4 linked regions of the Homo sapiens genome follow. The protein of the gene in region 1 purifies or fractionates together with the protein of each later gene. This does not show direct contact. Each region holds a gene or a part of one and is shown in the gene's direction. Other genes may lie near its edges.

Region 1 (5,232 bases):
ATAGGACCTTGAAGGCTGGGTTTGGATAGAGAAACGTGGGGAGGGTGAGATGGAGATGAATTGGGACTAAGAGGTGGGAGTGGAAGCCTCACCTGACGCCTTTATGCATGATACTATAGAAAGGGCCCACCCTGGGTGGATGTGTCTAGAAGGCCAGGATCGATTAGTGATGCCTAGTTCACGTGATTGGGGAGGTGATGTGTGGCTTGGGATGACAGGAGTGGGAGTTGAGACAGAATAGGTTAGTGTGGGTTCTTCTTGGAAATTGTAGAATAGAGAAAAGAAACTGGTGTGGGCAGGAGCTGAATGTGGAACCAAAATGCATGCTGAATGCTGGAACATCAGAGGTCCTGGGACCTTTCTGGTGCACCCCCTCCTTCCTCCTGGATTCACCCCTCTTCTTCTGCTGTCTTTTTTTTTTTTTTTTTTTTTGAGACAGATTTCGCCCTGTCACCCAGGCTGGAGTGCAGTGATGCAATCTTGGCTCACTGCAACCTCCGCTCCCTGGGTTTAAATGATTCTCCTCCCTTGGCCTCCCGAGTAGCTGGGATTACAGGCATGCACCACCATGCCCGGCTAATTTTTGTATTTTTAGTAGAGACGGGGCTTCACCATGTTGGCCAGGCTGGTCTTGAACTCCTGACCTCAGGTGATCTGCCTGCCTCAGTCTCCCAAAGTGCTGGGATTACAGGCATGAGTCACCGTGCCCGGCCTCCTCTCTCTTCTTAGCCACTGTTTTCCCCCGTAAGCCTGAAGCAGTTCCTGGCACTTGTTCCCATGGGGAAGCGTCTGTGTAAGGGTATGCTTCACCAGCACTGCCAAGGAAGTAGACTTTTCACTTTCTCTGGATTTTTCTCTGCAACACCCTCTGATCCCATTGCCCCCAGAATAGTAGGAATTTTGAGTGATACCTAGATAGGAAAGCTCTTAGGATTAATGAAGAAACTGAGATTTTCTTGGTGGGAGTTTGTGCTTTTAAAGGGAGTTGTTGCAATTCAATGGAACTCTGTAATAACCACTGAAACTGTTACACATTAGGCTTACTGACCCTATCTCCTATAACCCATGAAATAAAGACCTGATAGTCACATAGTTGTTTGCTATTTGGGAGGATCCTAAAAGTACAGCCTGAACAGTGACCCAAACCACAGCTGGCCTTGCCCATGCTGATGTGAGGAAGGAATGGGTGGGGGCAACTAAGAAATTGGGGGACAGAGTTCTCTGTGCTAGGTATCCTAGGACAAGCCACCCAGCCACACAGAGACCCCCCGCTTCCCCCCCACAGAACAGTTCTGGATGATAAAATGCCTGCCTGGAATGGAGAATCAGATGAGAAGATGTTTGCAAAGGGGTTTGAGATCAGTTAGCGGGTGGTGATGACAATGTTGATACCGTGGGTGTGTGACTGCCAGGAGCTGTGAAGCAGAGGGTGGAGTGTGCGGTGGTCAAAGCCTGGTTCTGGGATCTCTAGCTTTCCAGGGGCTTAGGCTCCGCCTTAGCAGAAAAGAAGGAAAGGAAATTGAGAAGGAAGTCAGGTGTCCCCTGCCCCTCACACTTGGGGATGGCTGACTTGGAGGACATGAGATGGGGGAAATCTGAGTGAGGGCAGAGAAGAGAAATGTGGAGGCTGCTCACAGGGAGGCTAGGGAGCATATGGCATATCCAGCCTGGGGAGTGGCACCACTGGGGGAAAGGGTGCGTGTGACAGTGGGGAAGGAGTGGTGATAACAGATGTGAGCTTGCTGTGTCCACTAAAAAGGTCACGGCTATTTTTAGGAAGTAGGTGACAAGGCATGTTCCTGTAGAACTGCTTATTACTGAGAACCCACTGTTGGCCTCGCCCTGCGTGGTGTGCTTAAAAGGAGAGACCGCCCCCACTCACCCTAGAGTCATCCACCTGGTGTCCCTGAGACATGGGACACTGGATGAGGACCAGGTTTGGAGGATGAAGAAGATCATGTATTTGGTTTTGGACATGTTGTGTTTGAGGTGTCTTTGAGATACCAAATAAGCTGGTGGGTCTGGGGCTCAGGAGGCGTCTTGGCTAGACAGACATTTGTCTAGGTTGTGTTTGTATTTGAAGTCATGGGCACAGCGAGATTGAAGAACTCACCTCGAACAGCTGAGTAAAGGAAGATGAGCCTATAAAGGACCCAGAAAAAGAGCGACCTGAGAGGGGCCCAGAAAGCCAGGACAGAGTTGTATCCCAGGGGCCAGGGTGAGTCTGCTTCGTGGGATGGAGTGGTCAGCTTGGCATCGCGGCTGTGGTGAGTGATATGGAGGAGATGTGGCTGCCTTCACTGCTTTGGTGGGATGATGTGAGCAGAAGCGAGGTTGGAGTGAATGGGTGAGGAGTAGCAGGACGTGAGGATCTGATGATAGACAGGCTCTGAAATGTTGGCTTTGAAGGCGAAGAGGACGTCGTTGAGGGAGTGTTTGATTCTGTTGCCTCGATTTACCCTCCTGCTCCCTTTCCAATCCCAGAAGGGAACATGTGGATGGCCTGCCACTGACATCCCTCCCCACGGCGCTCCGTGCTCAGGCAGACCTAGGTACCTGCAAGGGTTTGCTTCTTTCACAAAGTGGATTCATTCTCATGAATGAATGAATGAGTGAATGAAGCATGTTGCCCAGGTTGGTCTCAAAGCCCTGGCCTCAAGCAATCCCCCCGCCCCGCCTCAGCCTCCCAAAGTGCTGGGATTACAGGAGTGAACCACTGCACCTGGCTGGTATTAAATTTTCTTTGTGGCCAACTGCATGATAAATATTAACATGTTTCATGGGCGTGAAAGGAGAAAATAGGTCCTCTGCGGGACGCTGACTTTAGATAGATCTCTTAACTTCAGTTACCCTTATATCCCTGCTTGCCTGGCTGTCAGATTCTGAGAGGTATAACAAAAACTCTCACTGTAGTTTTTTAAAGTCCAGCTCTACTTATATTTGTGGGAGTTCTAGCCTTTTGAGTTTGGCTTTCGTGTTTCATGTATATAGGCTTATCAAGCTGATCTTCCTACCTGTCATTTGCTGGTTATTTAATGCCTTTGGTCTTTGGTCTTAAATTCCATATTGTCTGTGTTTTAGGAGAATACATGGCCAAGGATCTGGGAGAATCTCTTTTCTTTACAGTCTTAAAATTAATAAATAAGTGCATTTTATAAGATAATAAGTGAAAGGCTCAGAAATTTAAATGCAGGCATCAGAGGACATTCAAGCCATGCCCCTTTAGCTTCTGTTCAGGCTCACATGGAGCGGTTAGTAATCAGGTCTCACTGATGACCATGAGCTCCCTGTCCTTGGCTGTCCTAATGGTTCCCATGATAGCCAGATTTTTAGGAGGGGTGGATAAAATGAGATTTGCGTGCAAACTCCTGGGACGTTGCCTGGGAACCTCTTCTCTCACTTTGCAATTCCTGCCCCTTCCTGTAGGTCCAAGAAGCGGACTGCTCTGCCTCTCATTTACGCATTTCCTTCCTCATTCCAGACAGCAAGATGAGTTTTTGACAGAGTAGCCAGTACAAACACTTCTCAGGGCCAGAAGTCAGAAAGACGCGGGCCCCAAGTCATAAGCTCATCTCTGTGCTTGTGTTTTAAGCCACATAAACTGTCTCAGCGGGCTGGACTAGGCTATGCCTTGTTGTACCCTGAGATCCTAGTGAGTAGTTCTCCAAGTACTGTGTTTACAGATAAAGGCAAATGCCAGAGAGAAATGGCTGGAAAAACCCCTTGGCTTGCTAAGGCAGGATTATCGAAAAGTCTTCAACATATATGTTTTTAAATTTTACATATTTTTTCATTTTTATTTATTTTGAGACCAGACTAATTTTTGTATTTTTGGTAGAGATGGGGTTTTGCCATGTTGCCCAGGCTGGTCTCAAACTCCTGGGCTCAAGTAATCTGCCCACCTCAGCTTCCCAAAGTGCTGGGATTACGGACATGAGCCACTGCACCCAGCCAACCACTGTGCCCAGCCTATTTTTACTATTAATATTTCCACCTCTGTTTTTCTTTGCATTTATTTGGTATGTCTTTGCCCAACCCTTAGTTTTAAATATTTCTTTCTCACTTAAAAAAGTTTATCTTGGCTGGGCGCGGTAGCTCACGCCTGTAATCCCAGCACTTTAGGAGGCCGAGGCGGGCAGATCACGAGGTCAGGAGATAGAGACCATCCTGGCTAACACGGTGAAATCCCGCCTCTACTAAAAATATAAAAAATTATCCAGGCGTGGTAGCGGGCGCCTATAGTCCCAGCTACTCGGGAGGCTGAGGCAGGAGAATGGCATGAACCCGGGAGGCGGAGCTTGCAGTGGAGCCGAGATCGTGCCACTGCACTCCAGCCTGGACGACAGATCAAGACTTGGTCTCAAAAAAAAAAAAAAAAAAAGTTTATCTTGAAGATGGAATCTTCGTAAATAAAATTTGTTTCTCTTATAATCAGAACGTGGTTGAGGGTGGATGGAGGTTGACAGAAGGCAATGATAACAGCAACAAACCTAATTGCATGGTTTCTGTCTTTGGTAGAGGAATTCTGACTGTTGACATACCAGATATACTTGATTTTATTCTTTGCATCTTGCTTATTACTTATTATACTTGCATGCATTCCTTTCCTGATTTTTGCTGTTGGGTTAAGTTTCTCATCGTCATCTTCCCCACGCCACCTGTATTACGTTTCAGGTTTGGTTGTGAATGAAGAGAGGAGCCCCGTCTCTCTCTCTCTCTCTCTCTCACTCACTCTCTCACTCTTTCTTGAAAAATCAGGGTCGAGGTTAAGTGTGTGTTCCATGAGATTGTCTTGGCACCAGGCTCCTTATGGACTGTTGTCCCTAGCATTCTCAAGGGCTGTGGTTTTCAAACTTGAGCATGTATAAGAACAATCTGGAAGGCTTGTTAAAGCATAGATTCTTGGACTGCACCCTGAATCATTCTAATTTAGGAGGTCTGTGATGGGACCTGAGCACGTTAATTGCTTACAGGCTCCCATATTGTATAATGCCGCCGGGCCACATGTTGGGTAGCACCGTCTAGGTGCCTCCCTTAACTGCATGGCCCAAGACAGCTCACTTTCACATCCCCATGGCAGGCCCTCCTAGCTGCTAGGGGTCTGGAAAGCAGTCCTTAGTGGGGGCTGCTGTGTGCCAGGCTATGGTGTGTTCTGTTACTAAAGCAAGAGAGAACAGATGGTTGAGGAGGACAATCAGAAGTTTCTGGAACACCACCCACTGCTCTCCTGAA
Region 2 (4,550 bases), on another chromosome or scaffold:
ATTTGCATTTCTCAAATTACTAATGAATGGTGTTAAGCATCTTTTCATGTGCTTATTGGTCATTTGTATATCTTGGGAGAAATGTCTATTTAAGTCCTTTGCCCATTTTCTAATTGGATTGTCTTTTTATTGAGTTGTAAGTTTCTTTATATGTTCTAGATACTAGACTCTTATTAGGTATGTAATTTGCCAATATTTTCCCCATTCTGTTGGTTGTCTTTTACTTTCATGACAGTGTCGTTTGAAGCACAACCTGTAGGCATCCTCCCTTTCCCAACCTCTAACACCCACAATTTTACTCTCTACTTAGATGGGTTCAGAGTTTTTTCTTGGCGTCCACATGTGAGTAAGAACATGCAGTATTTATCTTTCTGTGCCTGATTTATTCTGCTTAACGTATTGTTCTCTAGGCTCATCCATGTTGCTGCAAATTACAGGATTTCATTCTTTTTTATGGCAGAATTGTATTCCATTGTGTATACCACATTTTCTTTATCCATTCACCTGTTGATGGACACTTGGGTATTGTAAATAGTGCTGCAATAAACGTGGGGGTGTAGGTACCCTTTGATACACTGATTTCCTTTCCTTTGGATAAGTAACCCAGTAGTGGGATTGCTGGATTATGTGGTATTTCTATTTTAAGTTTTTCTGAGAAACCTCCATACTGTTTTTCATAGTGGCTGTACTAATTTATATTCCCAGCAACAGTGTATAAGAGTTTCATCTTCTCTGGATCCTTGCCAGCATCTGTTATTTTTTGGTTTTTTGATAACAGGCATAATAACAGGTGTGAGGTGATACCTCATTTTGATTTTGATTTGCATTTCCCTGATGATTAGTGATGTTGAGCATTTTTAATATATTTGTTGGCCATTTATATGTCTCTTCTGAGAAATGTCTATTTAGATCCTTTGCCCACTTTTTAAATGGGATTGCTTGTTTGTTTTGTTGTTGAATTGAGTTCCTTGTATATTTTGGATATTAGTCCCTTGTCAGATGAATAGTTTGCAAATGTTCTCTCCCATTCTACAGGTTATCTCTTCACTCTGTTGATGATTTCCTTGAATTTAGTCCCATTTGTCTATTTTTGTTTTTGTTGCCTGTGTTTCTGAGGTCTTAGCCATAAAATCTTTGTCTAGACCAATGCCCTGAAGTGTTTCTCCTATGTTTTCTTCTAGTAGTTTTATGGTTTTGGGTCCTTAGTCCATTTTGAGTTGATCTTTGTATATAGTGATAGACACATCAGAGATTCTTAATCATGCTCTTTATGCTTTTAAAGTCACTCTGTTTTACATGTATATATTGAATTAAGGAATCGCAGCCATGATGTGCTGGGCTAGGTGTGTTAGCAGCACAAGCTAACCAACAAAGGTGGGGAATATACTGTGTTGTGCATTGTTCAGAAAGATTTAGAGTGGTTTGTCTTTGCAGCTTTCATTAGAGGAAGTGAGTACCTCAGAGAAGTGCTAAGGGGTGGGAAACTTACCATTTAAGTCTATTCTTAGAAGTGTCTGAAGCTTTGGAGCCTGAAGTAGAGACAGAGGAAGTGGGAAGCTTAAGAGAGTGTACATGAGAATTCAGCCAGTAAACTGAGACGTGCATTCAGAAAACCTAGATAGGAATTCTGGTTCCTACATTATTTGTTTGATGACTTTGGGCAAATCATTTAATTTACTTAATTTTGAACCTTATTCTTTCCTCTTTTTTTGTCCTTTTCTTCTCGTATTCCACTTCGTCAATGTACATCTTAAAATGTGACTTACAAAACTGGGTCCAGTACTTGTGACTCTGACAAGCACAGGGGATTATTTATTTGTTCTGAGGGACCTCTGTTCCAGTTAATCTTATCTGAGAGTGGTGTTGTAGGTTCTTTTTCTTCTTTTTTTTTTTTTCTTGGCAGCTGCATCACATTTGATTTATCCTTTTCTCCGTTGCACTAATTTTCTTTGTTTTGTGTTCTCTAAAGACTTAAACATCTGTGAAAACATTTGACTGAGCAATACTCTATGTTATTTTTAAAGGGCATGTTGTCTTTGAAATCATAGAAATACCGTGCAGGTTGGGGCTGAAAATATGGCTTTGCAACAAGCCAGGAGACGCATTTCTCTGAGGGTCTTGAATGTTAATGGATATACTTTAGGGACCTAGATTTTCAATTTCCTGGGACCTAAAGTCTCTTCCACATGGTGTCTATTTCTCTCTGAAATAGGCAGTCCACCCTTTTCCCTGTTTCTGAAATAGAGAGTCTACCATTTTCCCTGTTTTCCTGGATTAGCCTTTTGTTCTACTCTGTCCATTTTTTCCTTTTCTTCATAGCTTCTGCTTACAGTTTTAGATTCCTCAAGCATATTTAAGCTTTCCATACCTCTCATAATCTCACTGTAGCCTACCTATACCTCAAGGCTTCTTCAAGTTTTTTCAGCTTCTACTTGCAATGTCATCTCACTTCTCAAACTAGATTCCTGAGTGAGAGAGACGAATAGTTGAGCACCTCTTTTCACACTGGGCTCATCCACTGGCTCTTGATGGGTGGCTGTCCATGGGTCAGGGCCCACCTCTAACCACCTAGTCAAGTCTGGGCAGTCAGCATCAAGGGGTTCACATGAAACCCTTGAGAGCAGGGATCTCCTGAGGAGGCGGTTTGATTTATTATGGCCATGACTTTGCCAGACACAGGGACTGAGTATATGTATCCAGTATATATACTCATATCAAATATGCAAGGAGATTGGATTTGGGTTTGGCTTGGTTGTGTGTGTTTTGGTAGGGGATGGAGATTATTTTGATTTAGTATACAAATACAAGTTTTGTAGGCATTCAGATAGAAATGTCTAGGCTGGGAAGGCAGACCCACAGGTCGGGAGAGTGGATGTTAGAGTGCTTTATTAAGTATTATCTGTGTAGAAATTTGAGTCCTAAACCTACATGAGATAGCTGAGTAAGGAAGTATAGGGAGAGAGGAGAAGGCCAAAAACAGCTTAAGATGGGATTATAAAGAGCTCCCATGGAGGAGGAAAGAGAACTCTACAGGAGAGATCAGCAAGTAACCAGTTTACTCAACAACATTATACATTGTTTTTAGAGAGAAAGATAAATGATTCAAAAAAATGTTTAATGACTGGAATTTTGGATGTAGTTCTGTGGTAATAATCTTAACTTACTGAATGACTTTTGCTATATTCTTACCCCAAACCCCTTCCTCATAGGTAGAAGAAGAAATCCAGACTCTGTCTCAAGTGTTAGCAGCAAAAGAGAAGCATCTAGCAGAGATCAAGCGGAAACTTGGAATCAATTCTCTACAGGAACTAAAACAGAACATTGCCAAAGGGTGGCAAGACGTGACAGCAACATCTGCGTATGTTTCCTTGATCATACACTTTCCTTGGGAGTGTAAAGGACACTGTTGTGCCTTTTGTCTGGAGAGGGGAAGAAAAAGAGGATAAGGATGCTTCAGCAGCTTTTCTTTGGACGACACGGCACCCTTTTTTTCTGATTTTCAAGTGTGCCTGCCTTTTTTTGTAACTTCAATTTTTCCAGACCACTTATTCTAAGGAATAGAAAGAAAGCTAGCCAGTTGGAGAAATAAAATTCAAATCCCATAAGTGTTATGTATTGACTTGCCACAAATATGTACATTTTGTCCTTTAGTACTCAGAATAACCCAGTAAGAATGGGTGGCAAGATAACCCTGGATAAGGAAACAGGCTCAGACAAATTAAGTTTTCATGTCACAAACCTCTCAAAATGTGGAGTGGGAATTCAAACTCAGGTCTGGAGCCAGTCTTTATTATTATTATTAATGTATTTTTTTAACCTTGTTGTGTAGGTATCAAAAGATTCTCAGGTCGTAGTCTCAGATATATGCTCTTGGCAGAGGTCAATCCCTTAGGCTTTTTGTCTTTTTGACCACACATGCTATGATATAGCATTATCATAATGCAGTTTTGTTTCCCGGCACAAGGAGGAGCAAGCTTCTAGCAGCAGAAACCGAACTGCTCTGTCTTCTGTATTGAGAGCCATCTGCAGAGCTGGTGAGCACAGAAGTTGTTTTACAATTTAACTATCAGAAGTGAGGCCAACTGCATTTAACATGACAGTACTTGAGTCCCCAGTCTTTTGGTCCATTTTCTACCCATCTAAGTTGGCAGTGGGAAAACATACAGGAAACTATTTTTTCAACAGTATTACCATGAACCATGTTTTTTTATTGGTATTTGATCTTGACAGGGTAAGTAAAAATGCCTGAGCATTCTTTCCCATAATGTGGGAATTGTTTTGGTAGGTACGATATTATTTTGTTTTTTGTTGTTGTTGTTGTCATCATTTTTTTGTTTTTGCTTTTCTCTTCTCTAATCTCCAGGTAGCTGGGAAGGAGGTGGTAAATTATAGCTTTGCGTGATAGCAGATACCACACTAGAATAATTTTAAGCATTGCATATTTTACATACTTTGTTGAAAGTCCATCATGTCCGTATTTGGTAGCTCTCTAAAGACATGCAAAAATTTTTAGAAAGTATGCCCATAAAATGTATTTGGATAATAAAATA
Region 3 (5,119 bases), about 22 Mb from region 1:
GCTCCCGGCTCCTGTTCCTCTGCCGCCGCAGCCGCCGGCCCCGGCGCTGCCCGGTAGACAGAACCGAGCCGAAGAACAGCAGCAGCGGCGCCCCGCGCTCCCTGGGGCCCTGACGGCGACGGCGGNCCCACCTCCTGCGCCCCCGCCCCCTCCCGCCGTCCTCCAGTCCCCTCAGCTGCCGCGCGCGCGTCACCGCCGCCCGCACCGCCGCTGCCGCCGCTACTGAGCATGCCCAGAGGCCGTCCAACGGGATTCCGGCCCCCCAAGTCAGCGGGGCGGGCGCGCCGTGCTGCCAGGACCTGGCGACGGCGACAGGGATAGGGCGAGCGCACCCCTGTTTCTTCTCACCCCCACCCCGCGGGCATTTCGAAGTCACGCGTGCTGCTGTGGCCTCATTCATTCAACACGCTTCTCAGCGCGTCAGCTCAGAGAAGCCAGGGACTTCTAAGTGTGCGGAGCAGTCCGGCAAGAATTGGAAGGCACTAGCATTGCCAAGGGTGGCTCTAAAGGCCACCCCTAACTGCACTCAACTCCCTCCAACTCCCACCCCGCACGAAAACAACAGAAGTAAAAGCAGGCAGCTTATTAGAGATGCGCCTTCAAAATACCCTTCGAGTTAATCTCAGCCCCCCTCCCCGGATTGCTGTCTCTAAACCGCTCTTACCAAAAAGTAAAACACATAAAAATAAAATAAAATTGGAACCGACACGAATTTCAGACTGTAGAAGACAGAGAAAACTTCTAATTTTTTTAAGTGAACATGTTTTTTAAAGAAAGGAGCAAGTTTTTTCTCTCCCACTCGACCTTTAAGATAGTGCAGGTTCCAAGGTCCTGAGTAGATAATTATATCAAAAGCAGAAAGGGATGGACACCGGTAGCTACGCGAGGTTCTGGAATGGGACTCAGTCATTGATTCCTGTATGTCCGCCGCTGGCATGTTATATAAAAGCTGGACCTGGCCTTGAAGGTAAATCGTCACAAGCCCCGAGCAAGAAAAACTGGGGTCAAATCTTAGGTATCTGATTAAAGTAAGTGTCCTATTAACACCTGTTTCTGCCCCCAGAAGCCCACACACCTGGAAGAGACGTAAAATCTGGCCTGGATTCCCTAATCCCAGGGCCCTGCCCCTCGGCTTCAGGGCCCCGCCCCTCGGCTTCAGGGCCCCGCCCCTCGGCGTTGCGCAAACTCTGTTGCTACCTAAGTCTTTTCCTCCTCCCACCTCCCGTAGCTGTCAAAATCCGGAGTCCAGACTTCCTTATGGCCAGGACAGCTCCACGCATGCTCAGCACCTACCAGGGTCGAGCTCACACACGTGCCTACGACCCGCCGCGGCGCCTGCGCGGTAGCATCGCGGAGTCGGTGCTTTAGTACGCCGCTGGCACCTTTACTCTCGCCGGCCGCGCGAACCCGTTTGAGCTCGGTATCCTAGTGCACACGCCTTGCAAGCGACGGCGCCATGAGTCTGACTTCCAGTTCCAGCGTACGAGGTGAAGTGGGGCCTGGGAGCGGGTGAGGCTGGTGAGGCTCAGCGGTTGCCGCGCCCGCAGTTCGACTGGGTTGTTTTACCACTGCCCTACGCGCCCGCCGGTCCTATAACCTTGAGATGCAGAAGGGCAAGCGCTCGGCCCGGCTGCGGGCTCCGGGCCGGACAGCGAAAGGGGGCGAGGTCAGGGATGGATTGATGGTTTGGGGCCATGCCGGACCAGAGTCCACGTTTACCCCAGCTAGCCAAACCCTAACACCTAATGACCGCGCCGCTAGCTTTTCTTGTTCACCCCTAAGACGCTTTCATGTCCTTAAGTCACATAGCCTGGAAAAGAAGGAAAGGTGGGAGAAAACAACAGCAAACCTGTTTGCCCTTCTCATGTTTCAGTCAGCGTCGGGCCACAACGTCGATTTCCTGCAATCCTGAAGCATTGCGTGACTAATCACATCTTAGTTTTGCAGATTTTTTTTTAAGGGATGAAACGCAATCCGAGGTTTTCAGTTTTCCCGGTTTTTTATTATTCCTCTGGCATCTGACACTCGGTGGCAGTAGTCCAGGATAAAGGATTGAAAACTGCGTTCGTTGAACCTTCAGCTTTCTGAGTCTTCTTTCCCCTGTGCTAGTACCTAGCGTTTGGAAACAGTATTTCGCAGAAAGTCCCGTTATAATAAAATTAAGAGACTTTATAAGCAGTCATTTAATGTGGAGTTTCACTTTATAACCATTCTTGGTGATGTTATAATTGTTAATATAATACTGTGTACCAGACACACAATATATGTGATCTTTGCCCCTCTATAAAACGCCACTTCGCAAGGTTTTGAGTAAAGGCAAAGAGACTGTCTAGAGGTTAATTAAAAATACGTTCAGTAAATATTGAACATCTGTAGTGCCAGGTAATAAAAAGTCCCTACTAACTTGAGCCCTAATTTTTTAATAGGTAGTTTCCAAAAATTGGAGAGTTCCACTTCTGTTGACAAAATTTACCTGGCTAAGGGTGATATTCCATGACATTTCGAAGTTACTAATGATATAGAGATTATTATTTGCAAAAATTATATTAAAGGATACTCATCTTGAGACTTTTTTTAATAGAGGCAGCTTGGTGCATTTAAAATAGGGTGTGATTTTTGTTTTTGTTTTTTAAAAAACTATATTCTCTTGGGATTAAGACTTGTGAAATGAGATGTTCATGTGACTTGTGCCGCTGATATTTTTAATTTTACAGGAAGACTGCACATGTTTGAGGTGGACCAAAAGATTCCACAGTGTGTGTTTAAAATACGGGATCATTTTGTGTACATGAACACTAAACTCTATTTAGGTTGCATATTATTGAAATGTGAAACGGGTGAACCCCTTAGGACTTACCGCTATCTGCAGGCTGGTCTGCAGGATTTCTTTTTTAGACAAGACAAGGTTTTTTGTTTTGTTTTGTTTTTCAAGTCTAACCATAGGGGAATTCAAAGGCAACTTTCCCAATCATTTTCCATTGCCTAAGGAATAGGAAATCACTGAAGCAGGTTATTGGCTTCAACTGGAAGTATTCAACTTTGTTAGGAGGAGTGATTATTTTTTGAGACAGAGTCTCACTCAGTGGCCCAAGCTGGAGTGCAGTGTTGTGATCATAGCTCACTGCAACCTTGAACTTCTGGGCCCAAGCCATCCTTTCTCCTTGGTCCCCTGGCTTCCCAAAGTGCTGAGATTACATATGTGAGACACCACACGTTGCCATGACTATTTTTTTTTTTTTTGAGGCGGAGTCTCGCTCTGTCGCCCAGGCTGGAGTGCAGTGGCGGGATCTCGGCTCACTGCAAGCTCCGCCTCCCGGGTTCATGCCATTCTCCTGCCTCAGCCTCCCAAGTAGCTGGGACTACAGGCGCCCGCCACTACGCCCGGCTAATTTTTTGTATTTTTAGTAGAGACGGGGTTTCACCGTTTTAGCCGGGATGGCTCTCGATCTCCTGACCTCGTGATTCGCCCGCCTCGGCCTCCCAAAGTGCTGGGATTACAGGCGTGAGCCACCGCGCCCGGCCGACTATTTTTTATTTCACCAAAAAGCATGCAAGTTGTCATGAGGACTGTAGGGAGAGGCCCAAAGCCTTTGTAAATCTCTTCTACCAACATTTTCCTCCTCAATATAGTAGTAGGTAGGCAAGGTAGGGAAAGAGAATGTCGAGGGGATTTAACTTTTAATGTTTAGATCACACACAAGTTTGGTTCTCTTCTCAAACTTTAAACCAAGTTTATTCCTACAGATTGAAAATCAATTTAGATCTTTTAATTGGGGGAAAGATATCATGTCTCTTCTCAATTAAATGAATTTGTAATTATAAAGGGTTTAGAATGATATGTGACAGTGGTAAGCACTATATAAATATATGTTAAATATAAAGTGTGTACGTGTATGCAGAACTCTTGTTCATCATCAGAAGAAAAATAAAAGGTAGTTTATAAAAAAAAATTTAACGGGAATCAGGCCAGGACTGGAATCAGGCAGAGGCAGTGAGAATGAATGATTGGAACTGAAATACTCTTAAGATCCTGATCATTGAGATAGCTCTTGATACCAGTATGGTCGATAAGACCATTAGTTTATTATATTTTCTAGTACTAAGTGGCCTTCACTGCCTACTCGTCCAGTCTCTTATGATTCCTCCTCATATCCAAATAGATGACCTTTCTGAACATCATCCTGCTCCTTGATAACTCTAGCACTCATTGATCACTCTCACCCTTAACCCTTTCTCTTCTATTTGCAAGGAAGATGTTAACTCTTAGGCTGTTCTCTCTCCATGTCCTCCAGATGCCGTTTTCTTTTGCTTAAATCTTTGCCTCAGTGATATCTGTTGTTCGTAAATATTTAGTGCCTCATAAAGATTTTCTTCAGCCTTAAGTCACTCATAATTCACCCTCATCTTTAAAAAAAAAAAAAAGCCAACTATACCAGGTAATTTTGAAAGGCATCCCTTAACCTGCCTTCCCCTGAAATCACTTTTTTTTTTTTACTTTACCCTCAAGTTGCAACATAGGGATTTGTCTGTTCATCTTGTACTTCATTATCTATCCCAAACCCTGATCACTACAACGCTTGTAACCAAAATTACATTTCATAAATTCTTATTCTCTTTCATATTCTTGTGTATTTTATTGAAACTAATTTTCTAATTCATTTAACCACAACATAGGAAAATATTGTTTTGGTTCACTAAATTCACCAAGTCATTTAAAGTCATTATTTAAGGGTTTTTGTCTGAAAAGAAAGGTATGGATCATACTGAAAATAAAAGGGATAGCTCCTATAAGTTATAAACAATAAATGAAAAATAAGAGGGCTGGGTGCGGTGGCTCACGCCTGTAATCTCAGCACTTTGGGAGGCCAAGGCGGGCAGATCATGAGGTCAGGAGTTCGAGACCAGCTTGGACAACATGGTGAAACCCCCGTCTCTACTAAAAATACAAAAAATTAGCCAGGCATGGTGGCACGCATCTGTAGTCCCAGCTACTTGGGAGGCTGAGGCACGAGAATTGCTTGAACCCAGGAGGCAGAGGTTGCGGTGAGCTGAGATTGCACCACTGCACTCCAGCCTGGGCAACAGTGCGAGACTCCATCGCAAAAAAAAGAAAAATAAG
Region 4 (4,550 bases), on another chromosome or scaffold:
ACAGGTGTGCCTTGGGGCATAAGGCGTGGACAGGGCGTGGACCCAGGGGCCTCTTGGGCACAGCCGTGAGGCTGAGCAGTTGCTAGTCATGATCTTGCGAGAGCCTCCTGTTGAGTCAGGACTTGAGGAGACTGGAGACAGTGCTGCTGTCCCCGGTGGTGTGCGGACTGGAGGAGCCGTCCTGGAGGGTCTTCCCCTGCTGGGCCTGACTGAGCACGAGCAGGGGGCCTCCCCTGGGGCTCCCCGAGGAGGGCTGTGAGTGGGTGCTGGCCTCCCTTGCTTACACTTCGTTTCCTCTTCTCTCCTGCTGCCACCTTCCAGGGCTCATCCATTTTCACACTCCTTTAGGTAAGGCTGAGCCTGGACACACCTGTGGAAGACTTTTCTCTGAATTGGGGCAGGGTGGACTCCGGCAGGGCCCTTGGGCGGCTGTGCTAGTAGAGGGCAGTGAAAGTGGGATCACCCCTTCCAGGACAGCAGTGCCAGCCAGGTGGTTGCTGCATCTCAGGGAACAAAGCAGCAGCGTGGGATCGACGCAGAGGCCCCCCGGAACCCCCCGGCCCTTCTGTGTCCCCTCCTCGTGCTTCCCTTCAGGCTCACAGACCGCCTGCTGCCGGGTCTGTGAATAACTGGCCTGGCGTCCAGGCCTGAGTTTACTCCTGAAAAGGAGCTTTTTTTTTTTTTTAGACGGAGTCTTGCTCTGTCGCCCAGGTTGGAGTGCCGTGGCGCGATCTCGGCTCACTGCAAGCTCCGCCTCCCGGGTTCACGCCATTCTCCTGCCTCAGCCTCTCCGAGTAGCTGGGACTACAGGCGCCCGCCGCCACGCCCGGCTAATTTTTTGTATTTTTAGTAGAGACGGGGTTTCACCGTGGTCTCGATCTCCCGACCTCGTGATCCGCCCGCCTCGGCCTCCCAAAGTGCTGGGATTACAAGCGTGAGCCACCGCGCCCGGCCTTTTTTTTCTTTTTTTTGTTGGAGTCTCGCTCTATCACCAGGCTGGAGCACAGTGGTGTGATCTCGGCTCACTGCAACCTCCAGCTCCCTGGTTCAAGCGGTTCTCCTGCCTCAGGCTCCTGAGTAGCTGGGATTACAGGCATGAGCCACCACGCCTGGCTAATTTTTGTATTTTTAGTAGAGACGGGGTTTCACCATGTTGGCCAGCATGGTCTCGATCTCCTGACCTCGTGATCCACCCGCCTTGGCCTCCCAAAGTGCTGGGATTACAGGCGTGAGCCACTGCGCCGGGCCCTCAAAGGAGCCTTTTCACGTGGGAGGGCTGTGCCGACTCTCACCACCTTCCTGTTCAACATCTGTCCTGTTTCCTTGTTTTCCTTCAGATGGAGTTTTGTCTTGTTTACTACCCGAGAGCCCATAGGTGTGCCTCCCAAAGGGCCCTCCTGCAGACCAGAGCAAGCTCCTCTAGGCCAAGCCGGGGCGCCGCCAGCACGTGCCCTTCTGCTGGAACCGGGAGGTCTAGAGCCAGGCCCAGAACAATCTGTGATTTCTTGTGTTTTTACTTGACTTGGTGGTTTCTCTTTTGCCAAAAGGTCCTTACTTGACTTCTGAAGGCTGTTTGTACCAAATACTTTTCAAAAGCCCAAGCCTGGTCTCCTCACAGCTTCCTATGGCAGTGCTCTCCCCCCTCCCAGTGCTATGCGCTGGGCAACTTGGGGTGCCCCCCATGAGGCCAAGGGAGGACCCTGGGGTCGAGTTTCCTTCGGGGGCATTGTGTGGAGGGGCAGGCAGCTCGCTCCAACTGCTGGGAGTGGGGGAATCCCAGCTCTGCCCATCCCTGCCAAGTTGGGGTTGTGTGTGGATCTTGGTGTTAACTCTTGCTTCCTTCTCTGCTTCTGCCATGCTTCCAAGCAGCAGCTACTCCATCCGCCACTCAATAAGTATGCCAGCCATGAGGTAATGTATGCCTGCTCGCTGCGGCTCCAGAGCCGGGTGTCTCTGGTGGGGGTTGGGGCAGCTCCCGCCGGTTACACCTTGCCCTTCCCATATTCCTGGATTAATTGAGGACTCCATTCCCTTGGCAACCTCTGATGACTAAGGGCCGGTAAAAACCCCCTCTAGGCTGACGAGGAAGAGCTGGTAGGGGGTCAGGCTCTTCACCTGCAGCCTCCAGAGGAGATCCTTGTGTCAAACTGGGCCGTGTCCTTTCCAAGTCCTGACCCTGGCTGCCTGCAGTGGGTGGGGTGGGGTTCGAGGGGCTCGCACACAGATCCTGGCACTTGCCCTGGTGGGCTGTCACTCAGGACACTTCACGGTCTCAGCCTTCACGGAAACACCCAGAGCTGTGGTCCTTATTCTGTGCCTGTCAGGCACCACCCTGATTCTCAGGATTCTGTGCCTGTGCCGTGAGGCACTGCCCTGATTCTCAGGAGAGCCCAGAACTGTGGTCCCTATTCTGTGCCTGCGCCGTCAGGCACCGCCCTGATTCTCAGGAGAGCCCTGTTCTCCTTGTGGGGACTCTGGCTGGGTGTCGCAGACGTGCTGGCCTCTAGAGTCCCCGGGCCTGGGAGGGGTATCTGTTTGTGTGGGAGGGACTGAGTGGGATGGAGCTGGCCTGCTTTCTCCTCTTGTCTCCTTATCACTCTGCTGTCCCAGAAGTGTCCTTGGTCTTCCGTTTGCTTCTCTGAGAGATGTGCATGAAGAACTGCACAGACTTTTCATAACTTCAGTACGAGAGCCCAGGGTGTCCCTGTAGGGGACAGCAGAGAGGGGCCGACAGCCCCCCAACTGCGCAGACTTTTCATAACCTCAGTACGAGAGCCCAGGGTGTCCCTGTAGGGGATAGCAGAGAGGGGCCGACAGCCCCCCAACTGCACAGACTTTTCATAACCTCAATACGAGAGCCCGGGGTATCCCTGTAGGGGACAGCAGAGAGGGGCCGACAGCCCCCCAACTGCGCAGACTTTTCATAACCTCAGTACGAGAGCCCAGGGTGTCCCTGTAGGGGATAGCAGAGAGGGGCCGACAGCCCCCCAACTGCACAGACTTTTCATAACCTCAGTACGAGAGCCCGGGGTATCCCTGTAGGGGACAGCAGAGAGGGGCCGACAGCCCCCCAACTGCGCAGACTTTTCATAACCTCAGTACGAGAGCCCGGGGTGTCCCTGTAGGGGACAGCAGAGAGGGGCCGACAGCCCCCCAACTGCACAGACTTTTCATAACCTCAGTACGAGAGCCCGGGATGTCCCTGTAGGGTATGACAGAGAGGGGCCGACATCTCCCCAGCTGCACAGTCAAGGGGTTTCCAGTTGCCTTGTGTGACGTCTGGACCTGTCCCTGTGGTTGTTGGGCATGGCCGACCTCACTTTTGACCTGGGGAGTCTCCGGAATGACCTGGCTGTCTCACAGTTTTGCCATGAGATCTTGGGATGTTGTTAGGGACCCTTTGGAGGCTGGCCCTAACCCTGAGGCCCTTCCGAGTTAGGAGAGCAGCACAACCCTCTCCTCTTGACACCGACACTCTTCCCTCTCTCTTTAAAGGAACTCTGCGACCTTCAAGTCGTTTGAGGACCGAGTTGGGACCATAAAGGTAATTGTACCTGGACTGTTTGATGGTCTTGGCAAGGTGTGACCTGTTACAGCAACTTGTTTATTATTAGTCATTTAGTTATGGTAGACTCACATACAGTTGTGGGAAGTAATGCAGAGAGGTTCCTTGTGCCTTTTACACAGTTCTCTCCTGTGACGACATCTTGGAAAATCCTGTAGTGCAGCCTCCCCACCAGGACATTGGCACTGACTCAGGACACAGAACGCCTCCACACTGCCCTTCCTGGTCCCCACTGCCCTTCCTGGTCCCCACTGCCCTTCCTGGTACCTTCTTGGCCATGCTGACCTTCCTCCCGCCCTACCCCCGGCAACCCCTAGTCCACTCTCCCTTTGTATAATTGTGTCATTTCAAGAATGTCACGTAAATGGAACGATACAGTGTGCAGCTTTTTGGCATTCACTGTCTTCATTTGGCATCGTTCTCTGGAGACCTGTTGGGGCTGGTGCCCGTCCGTGATTTGCTCCCTGTCCCTGCTGAGCAGTGTTCGTGTTACATAAGCTTTTGTAGAGCATTGAGCATGGGCCTGGGATCTGCCTTGTGTTGTGTGCTCTGTCTCAGGTTTTTCTGTCTTCATCTTTTCTCTCCTGTAGTCTAAGGTTGTGGGTGACAGAGAGAACGGCAGTGACAACCTCCCTTCCTCAGCGGGGAGTGGTGACAAGCCCCTGTCGGATCCCGCACCTTTCTAAGCCTGTGGTTGCTTCACCCGCTGCAGAGCACACGCAACCCAGCCTCAGCATCACAGCCGCAGCTCTGTTCAGCGGAGCAGCCAGCCAGGGCGGATGAGCAGAGCCGGCCCTGAGGACAGTCCTGCCCATCCACGCGGAGATGTGGCTGCCGCGTTTGCATGAATTTGAAGAACACAGGCTTGTACACAGATGTTTTACACTCACGTTTGTAGATGAAACAGATCACTGTGCTGTCCTTCCTAGGGGTGCAGGAAGTGGACAGGGCGGAGGGTTTGAAAGAATATTGAGCCAAAGCCCAG

The links. The genes of interacting proteins can lie anywhere in the genome.
Region 2: the proteins of ANXA11 (region 1) and TPD52 fractionate together in Homo sapiens (co-fractionation; one large-scale study listed by BioGRID). This does not show direct contact.
Region 3: the proteins of ANXA11 (region 1) and CISD1 fractionate together in Homo sapiens (co-fractionation; one large-scale study listed by BioGRID). This does not show direct contact.
Region 4: the proteins of ANXA11 (region 1) and TPD52L2 fractionate together in Homo sapiens (co-fractionation; one large-scale study listed by BioGRID). This does not show direct contact.

Annotation. Positions count from the first base shown.
Region 1 is NC_000010.11:80,198,245-80,203,476, reverse strand, and holds part of ANXA11 (annexin A11), read left to right. Parts: intron 1-2,083; exon of another isoform or gene 2,084-2,218; intron 2,219-5,232. UniProt on the Homo sapiens protein: Binds specifically to calcyclin in a calcium-dependent manner. Required for midbody formation and completion of the terminal phase of cytokinesis.
Region 2 is NC_000008.11:80,052,090-80,056,639, reverse strand, and holds part of TPD52 (tumor protein D52), read left to right. Parts: intron 1-3,209; coding exon 3,210-3,358; intron 3,359-3,964; exon of another isoform or gene 3,965-4,034; intron 4,035-4,550. Other genes in the region: TPD52-MRPS28 protein, read left to right, coding at 3,210-3,358.
Region 3 is NC_000010.11:58,267,818-58,272,936, forward strand, and holds the start of CISD1 (CDGSH iron-sulfur domain-containing protein 1), read left to right. Parts: upstream 1-1,344; 5' UTR 1,345-1,456; coding exon 1,457-1,487; intron 1,488-5,119.
Region 4 is NC_000020.11:63,885,695-63,890,244, forward strand, and holds part of TPD52L2 (tumor protein D54), read left to right. Parts: intron 1-321; coding exon of another isoform or gene 322-348; intron 349-1,869; coding exon of another isoform or gene 1,870-1,911; intron 1,912-3,495; coding exon 3,496-3,544; intron 3,545-4,155; coding exon 4,156-4,251; coding exon of another isoform or gene 4,252-4,348; 3' UTR 4,349-4,550.